Homo sapiens: one gene and its partner. The protein of the gene in region 1 purifies or fractionates together with the protein of each later gene. This does not show direct contact. Each region holds a gene or a part of one and is shown on either strand. Other genes may lie near its edges.

Region 1 (3,750 bases):
TGTAACTGTGCAAGGCCCCTTGGATGTCTTTCACCAGAAGGGCATGGATGATGAAGGTGAGATCCAGTCCGATATCACCCAGTTGCTGGCAATGCTCCTTAGCCACTTTTACACACTCAGCTGCTGTAGAGAGGCTCTCCTTACTATCAAACACCTGCTTGCTAAAAGCATCCACGAACATGCCCATGGCTGATCTTGCCCAGACCACAAAGGCAGAGTAGCAGCCGCTGTCAGTGCCTGCAAAATCGATCTCAAATTCTCTTGCAGTCTCGAGAAGGCTGGTAAAGAAGACATGGCACAGCTTATGAATATAGAGTAAAGTGGCACCTTCGATGCGAAGCTGACGAATTGCAGTATGAACAGCGGCTGCCCTGTTTCTCAAAAATAGCTCACAGGCCTTCGTGCACTGGCCCAGCCGGATCAGTTGCGAAACTGCTCTGCGAGTAGCCTTCGGACCACCTCTCAGGGAACGATCTGGGGAGAGTTCGAAAACTAGCACCTCAGTGAGCTGTCGAACTCGCTCCTCCACTTTGGCCCTTAGTTCTTTTACAGGAGGTGGGCTAGGTTTATCTTCCAGGTAATGGTTCAATTTATCCAGCAGGTCAACCGCCCCTTCAAAGTCTCTCTGCGCAATGCAGACATCCAGGTCTTCAGGTAACTCCTGGATCCATTCCATGGAGAGGTCCACCTTCTCTTCCTCTACCTCAGGAACAGCTGGTTCTTCTTCTTCGTCATCCTCAAATGGGTTAGTGGCCTTGGAAGTCACTTGGGGTGGCCCTCGAGGGGCCGCTGCCTCCTCCTGCTCCCTTCGCCTTTTCTCACTGAGGGCCCTCTTGGTGTCCTCCAGCACTTCCAGCCACTCTCGTTTGATTTTAGCATTTTCGGCCTGGAAAATACGGCTCTCGGGGAACATAAGCAGCTTGAACATGTCCTTCATGGGCGGGTTGTCCTTGACATTGACTACGGCCAAACCATCTAGGGAATAGAGAGCGTTGTAGCGATACATCCCACGCCGCTGAGGCAGCCAGGTAGCCACCAACAAGCAATCGTTCATGAGAAAGCCGTGCACCCGCTGCAGTTGGGCCATGTGGTCCGCATCGTATTCCACTAGGTCCCCATTGTACACCAAGTACTGTCCCGGCGTCTCCAGCAGATGCCTGCAGCCTTCCACCTTCTCAAGCAGGGTGGTGAGAGTGCGCTGCTTTCCTTCCTCGCCTGGACCGGAGCCGTCGCGGGAGGCACCCCCGGGGGTGGAGAAAAAGCCGGCCTGGCCTCGGAGGTGGTCTCGGCCCCCCGCCCCACCGACTCCCTCCTCCCCTCCAGAGGCGGCGGCGGCTCCGGCGGCAGCAGCGGCAGGCAGCAACGTAAGCGGGATGCTCTCCAGGCTGCTTTTCTGCTCGGTCAGCAAATGGCTGAGCTGGTACATCTCGCTCTCCAGGTAGGAGATCTCGCGGGCCGTCTCTATGAACTGCCGGTAGTTCTGGTAGACGTTGCGCTTCAGGTTCTGCGCCGTCTCCTCCGCCAGCGCCTGGATGCGCTGCCGGTGCTCCTGGAGGTCCCGGTCCCCATCCGACTGCTGCGAGAGCTGCTTCACGTACAGCCGCGCCTCAAAACCCCCTGACTCCAGCTGCCGACGCAGGCGGCTCGCCCCACTGTCCGACATCGCCATCGCCATTTCTCTCCGGGTCTCACGCACTCACTGTCACTATCGGCGCCGCAGCCGCCGCGGCTGTCTAGACCCACCCAAGGCCAACCGAGCTCCTGGGCTGAGGAAGCAGGAATGGGAACGAGACGAGTACGCCTGCGCCGGGTCTGAGCGTCAGACACTGCGCCTGCGCAAGTGGGCCGAGCGCAGACATTGCGCCTGCGCAGCAATGCCATCGGTTAAAGCGCATGCGCAAGATGAGCTATTGCGGAAGTGAGGGGAGGGAGAGGCCGAGAGAAATTTCGGTACTGCGCATGAACCGAGCGTGACGTTGAGGTTTGAAATAACCGGCAAAGAGTAAAGGCTGAAACTAGCTTCCTGAAAGCTTCGTAGGGCCCGAGCCCTGTGAGCCCAGGTTCTGCGCCCACTAGGAGGTGTCATGCTGACTGCTTTTTTTAAAGCCCTAGAATCTTGGCTTCGGCGTTTGGGGTAAGCTCCGTTCTCGTTCTCAAGCGCGTTTCCGCGAACTCTCGCGGGATTGACGGGCCGTCTCGAGAGCCGGCATCTCCTAGGAGCTAGTCCTGGTCCTCGGCTAGGCGGCTTGGGGTCGCGGCGTAACTGGGGAGCCAGCCTGACGCCGGCGGACCCCGCCTGTGATCCTGGCAACGATGGATGATGACTTGATGTTGGCACTGCGGCTTCAGGAGGAGTGGAACTTGCAGGAGGCGGAGCGCGATCATGCCCAGGAGTCCCTGTCGCTAGTGGACGCGTCGTGGGAGTTGGTGGACCCCACACCGGACTTGCAGGCACTGTTTGTTCAGTTTAACGACCAATTCTTCTGGGGCCAGCTGGAGGCCGTCGAGGTGAAGTGGAGCGTGCGAATGACCCTGTGAGTTCCGAGCCCCGCTGGGGAAAGAGGCGGGACTGGCAGCTTTCCTGCAGCCCCCGGCCCTGGTTTTCTCTCCTTTCTCTAGTCCGACGGTCCCAGGGGGCGTTAAATGAGGGGAGTCTGGTTTTGGACCTGGCAATTCCTGCCTCGGCGTGTTTCTGTCTTCCTTACCTTTTCTCCCACTCGAACAATAAGAAAGCTGTGTAGACCACACCGCCACGGTTGGACTCAGGGCCGTAACAAAAAAGAGATTTTTATTTGAATCTCACTTCACTTGAAAATAACAAGTTCCTGATTTGCCTTATGATAGTGCTGTAGGACCCAGAAGGGAGAAGCAACCAAATCTGCACCTAAGAAAGTGCTGAGGACGCAGAGTAACTGCCAAAGGATGTGTGTTCTCCTCCTCTATTCCCGTTAGGAAACCCACTTTAGTTAGCTCGTGTGTTGCATTGGGGATCTTCAGTGATGCTTTTAAAACGATTCTTTTTCTACACGCTAAATTTCAGAAATCCCTATTTGAAATAATAATCTACTCCTGCACGTGAACAGGGTTAAGTTTAAGATACAGTTGTATCCCAGCATGCTTGTTTTTGAGTTGATAGAAAACAACCTACTGTCAAACAAATTAAGATATGATATTAAATTGTGTTTAAAGTACCAATTTCCTTTATACAGGCGTCTGTTATGATTTTGGAGATATGCTACTGGAGATATCTGCTTGTTAATAACACCGAACTGTAACTTGTCGGAAGGAGACTGGGAGTAGCAGAATAGGATTGCCTTTGAGCTGTTGCAGCCTAGCTAGGGCAAGGGGAGCTGCAGTTGGGCCATGTGGTCCGCATCGTATTCCACTAGGTCCCCGTTGTACACCAGGTACGGTCCTGGCGTCTCTAGCAGGTGCCTGCAGCCTTCCACCTTCTCAAGCAGGGTGGTGAGAGCACGCTGCTTTCCTTCCTTGCCCGGCGGGGATCGGAGCCATCGCGGGAGGCGCCCGCGGGGGTTGTAACTAATTAATTAGGTGAAATGCAAGTATCTGCTAACCAAGGGGGGTATACTTTCATGAAAGCCATCTGCCAACTGAGTTAGTGTGAACTGCCCAAGAATGTGTAAGGACTTGGGCATATTTGGCCAATGTAACACATTTTTATGGTGATTGTTTTCTAGGTGTGCTGGGATATGCAGCTATGAAGGGAAGGGTGGAATGTGTTCCATCCGT
Region 2 (3,750 bases), on another chromosome or scaffold:
AGCTGGGTGTGGTAGCACACGCTTGTAATCCCAGCTGCTCGAGAGGCTGAGGCAGGAGAATCGCTTGAATCCGGGAGGCGGAGGTTGCAGTGAGCCGAGATTATGCCACTACTCTCTAGCCTGAGCGACGGAGCGAGACTCCATCTTAAAAAAACAAAAACAAAAACAAACAAAAAAAAAACAAAACCAACCAACTAACCAAACAAACAAAAAAACGGGAGTGAGAGAGGTTACGTGACTATAGATTCTACAGACATTAAAAAAAGGTTAAGAAATATTATGAATAGGCTGAGTGCAGTGGCTCATGCCTGTAATCCCAGCACTTTGGGAGGCTGAAGCAGGAGGATTGCTTGAGCTCAGGCATACAAGACCAGCCTGGGTAACATAATGAGACCTTGTCTCTACAAATACAAAAATTAGCTAAGTGTGGTGGTGTGTGCCTGTGGTCCCAGCTACTCGGGAGGCTAACGTGGGAGAATGGCTCAGAGTCTGGGTCGTTAAGGCTGTAGAGAGCTGAGATTGTGCCACTGCACTCCAGCCTAGGCAACAGAGTGAGACCCCCATCTCAAAAAATGTATATATATTATGAACAACTTCATGCTCATACATTTGGCAACTTAGCAGAAATGGACAAATTAGTTGAAAGATACAAAGTATTATCAAAGTTCACTTAAGAAGAAATAGCTGAATAGCCCTGTATCAATTAAAGAAAGGGAATTTTGCTGTTATAAGCCTTCCCCAAAAGGAAACTCTAGGCCCAGATAGTTTTACTGGTGGATTCTACATCTTTAAGGAAGAATTAATGCCAATTCTACAAAGACTTTTCTGGAAAATTGAAGAGGAGGGAATATTTCCCAGCTCATTTTGAGGTCAACATTAACCTGATACCAGAACTAAAGAAAGAAAGACATAACTAGAAAAGGAAACTAAATCAGTATTCCTCATACACACAGATTTTACAAAAAATTTTAGAGAATTAAATCCATATATGTGGATTTAAAAGTATAAAATACATCTATATAAAAAGTATATTCTGTATATGTATATATGTGTGTGTATATATATGTGAAGAATACATCATGATCAAGTGAGGTTTATTTCAAGAAAGATGCTGGCTTAACATTTGAAAAATCAATGTAACATTGTTCACCATATTAAACAAAGAAAAGTTGTATGATCATATATGTGGAGAAAGCATTGACAAAATCGAATATTAATTCCTGATTTTAAAAACCCTCAGAAACTAGTAATGGAAATTCCTCAGCTTAAAACAGGGCATCTATGAAAATCTAGAGCTAAATTGTGCTTAGTGGTAAGAGTCTGAATGCTTTTCCTCTAAAATCAGGAATGAGGTAAGGATATTCATTCTCACCACTTCTATTCAACACTGTACTAGAATGTTGAATATAAGGCCGGTATAATAAGACCATTTAAAAAAAAAGCATCTAGTTTGGAAAACCGTCTTTATTTGCACACTGTGTGATCAACTATTATAGAAAATCCTGTGGAATGTACAGAAAAGCTACTAGAACTGATAAGTGAGTTTAGCAAGGTTGTAGGAATCAGGTGGATATGCAAAAGCCAATTGTGTTTCTCTGTACTAGCAACAATCAGAAATTGAAATTTAAAATTTGATGGTATCAAAAATATGAAATACTCAGGGATAAATCTGACTAAAGATGTGGAAGACTTGTATGTGAAAAATACAAAACATTGCTGATATAAATTAAATTAACATTGCTGATACTAAACTAAGTAAGTGGACACATACTGTTTTCATGGATTGGAAGACAGTATTGTTAAGATGTCAGTTTTCTCCAACTTAGTCTAGATATTCAAGATAATCTGAATAAATCCCAGCAGAATGAAAATTTATAGAAATTGACAAGCTGATTCTAAATTTCATGTAGAAATGTAAAGGACCTAGATTAGCCAAACTAACTTGGTAAAAGATGAACAGAATTGGAGGACCCATAGACCTGATTTTAAGATTTACTATAAAGCTACAGAAATTAAGACTGTGGTACTAGCATCAAGATAAACAAATAGATCAGTGAAACTTAATAGAAACCACATAAATAGATTAACACAGTCAATTGATTTTCAACAAAGATGAAAAGGCAATTCAGTAGAAAGAGATAGTCTTTTTTAGTAATGGTGGTGGAAAAATTGGATATCCTTACATAAAATAATGAACTTTGATCCATGCTTTGCACCATATTTAGAAATTAACTCAAAATGAACCCAAGACCTAAATGTAAAATGCAAAACTATAAGACTACTAGAAAACATAGGAGGAAATCTTTGTGACTTTAGGATAGGCCAAGATGTCTTAGATACTGTTTGCAAAAGCATAATACATAAGAGAAAAAAATTGATAAATTGGACTTTATTTATTGGACCAGAATTGAGAATATCTAGTCCTTGAAGAAGCTATTGAGGTTGCAGTGAGCCGTGATCATGCCTCTGCACTCCAGTCTGGGCAACAGAGTGAGTCCCTGTCTCAAAAAAAAAAAAAAAAAGGAAAGAAAGAAAAGGTGAGCCACAGATTGGGAGAAGATATTGGCAAATTGCATATCCAATAAATAAATTCTGTCTAGAATGTATAAAGGAAGTGTTTGAGACTGAATAATAATAAAACAACTAAAAAAATGAGGCTGGGTGTAGTGGCTCACACCTGTAATCCCAACACTTTGGGAGGCTGAGGCAGGTGGATCACAAGGTCAAGAGATTGAAACCATCCTGGCCAATGTGGTGAAACTCCGTCTCTACTAAAATACAAAAATTAGCTGGGCTTGGTAGCACACGCCTGTAGTCCCAGCTACTTGGGAGGCTGAGGCAGGGGAATCACTTGAACCTGGGAGGCGGAGGATGCATGAGCCGAGATTGTGCCAATGCACTCCAGCCTGGGCGACAGAATGAGACTCCATCTCAAAAAAAAAAAAAAGACTGACTATACCATGTATTGGTAAGGATGTAGAAGAACTGGCACTCTCATACACTGCTGTGGGAATTCCATAAATGCTGTTTATCAGGTTGAGGAGTTCTCTTAGTTTTCATTATGAAGGGGTGTTGAATTTTATCAGATGCTTTTTTCTGTATCTATTGAGGTGATCATGTGGTTTTGTCCCTTATTCTTTTGATATGGTATATTACATTATCAGATGTAAACCAACTTTGTATTCATGGGATAAATCCCATTTGATCATAGTGCATAAAGTATAATCCTTTTTATATGTTGTTGGATTCTGTTTGCTAGTATTTTGTTGAGGATTTTTGCATGTGTATTCATAAGATATTTTGATCTGTTTTTTGTGTGTGTGTGTGTGATGTCTTTGATATGAGAATGATACCTCATAGAATGAGTTGGTGCTCTCTCAATTGAGATGAGTATTTGGGTTTTTTCCCCCCTTTATTCTATTCATGTGGTACATTACATTGATTGATTTCCTCATGTTTAATTACCCTTGCATTCCTAGGATAAATCTCATTTGGCCATAGTGTATAATCCTCTTTAATATACTGTTGGATTTGGTTTGCTAGTATTTTATTGAGAATTTCTACATCTATATTCATGAGGGATTTCTGTAATTTTTTTAGAGACAAAATCTCACTGTGTTGCCCAGACTGATCTTGTACTTCTGGCCTCAAGCAGTCCTCCTACCTTAGCCTCCCGAGTAGCTGGAATTATAGGCATGAGCCACTGTGCCTGGCATGAAAATTTTTTTTTTTAATTTATGTTTGAGACAG

Evidence for each region. The genes of interacting proteins can lie anywhere in the genome.
Region 2: the proteins of EXOC8 (region 1) and EXOC6 purify together in Homo sapiens (affinity purification with mass spectrometry; 5 studies listed by BioGRID and IntAct, with this or other methods). This does not show direct contact.

What each region holds. Positions count from the first base shown.
Region 1 is NC_000001.11:231,336,071-231,339,820, forward strand, and holds the start of EXOC8 (exocyst complex component 8), read right to left. Parts: upstream 1,783-3,750; 5' UTR 1,676-1,782; coding exon 1-1,675. Other genes in the region: DNA-dependent metalloprotease SPRTN, read left to right, coding at 2,314-2,534, 3,699-3,750. UniProt on the Homo sapiens protein: Component of the exocyst complex involved in the docking of exocytic vesicles with fusion sites on the plasma membrane.
Region 2 is NC_000010.11:92,851,503-92,855,252, forward strand, and holds part of EXOC6 (exocyst complex component 6), read left to right. Parts: intron 1-3,750. UniProt on the Homo sapiens protein: Component of the exocyst complex involved in the docking of exocytic vesicles with fusion sites on the plasma membrane.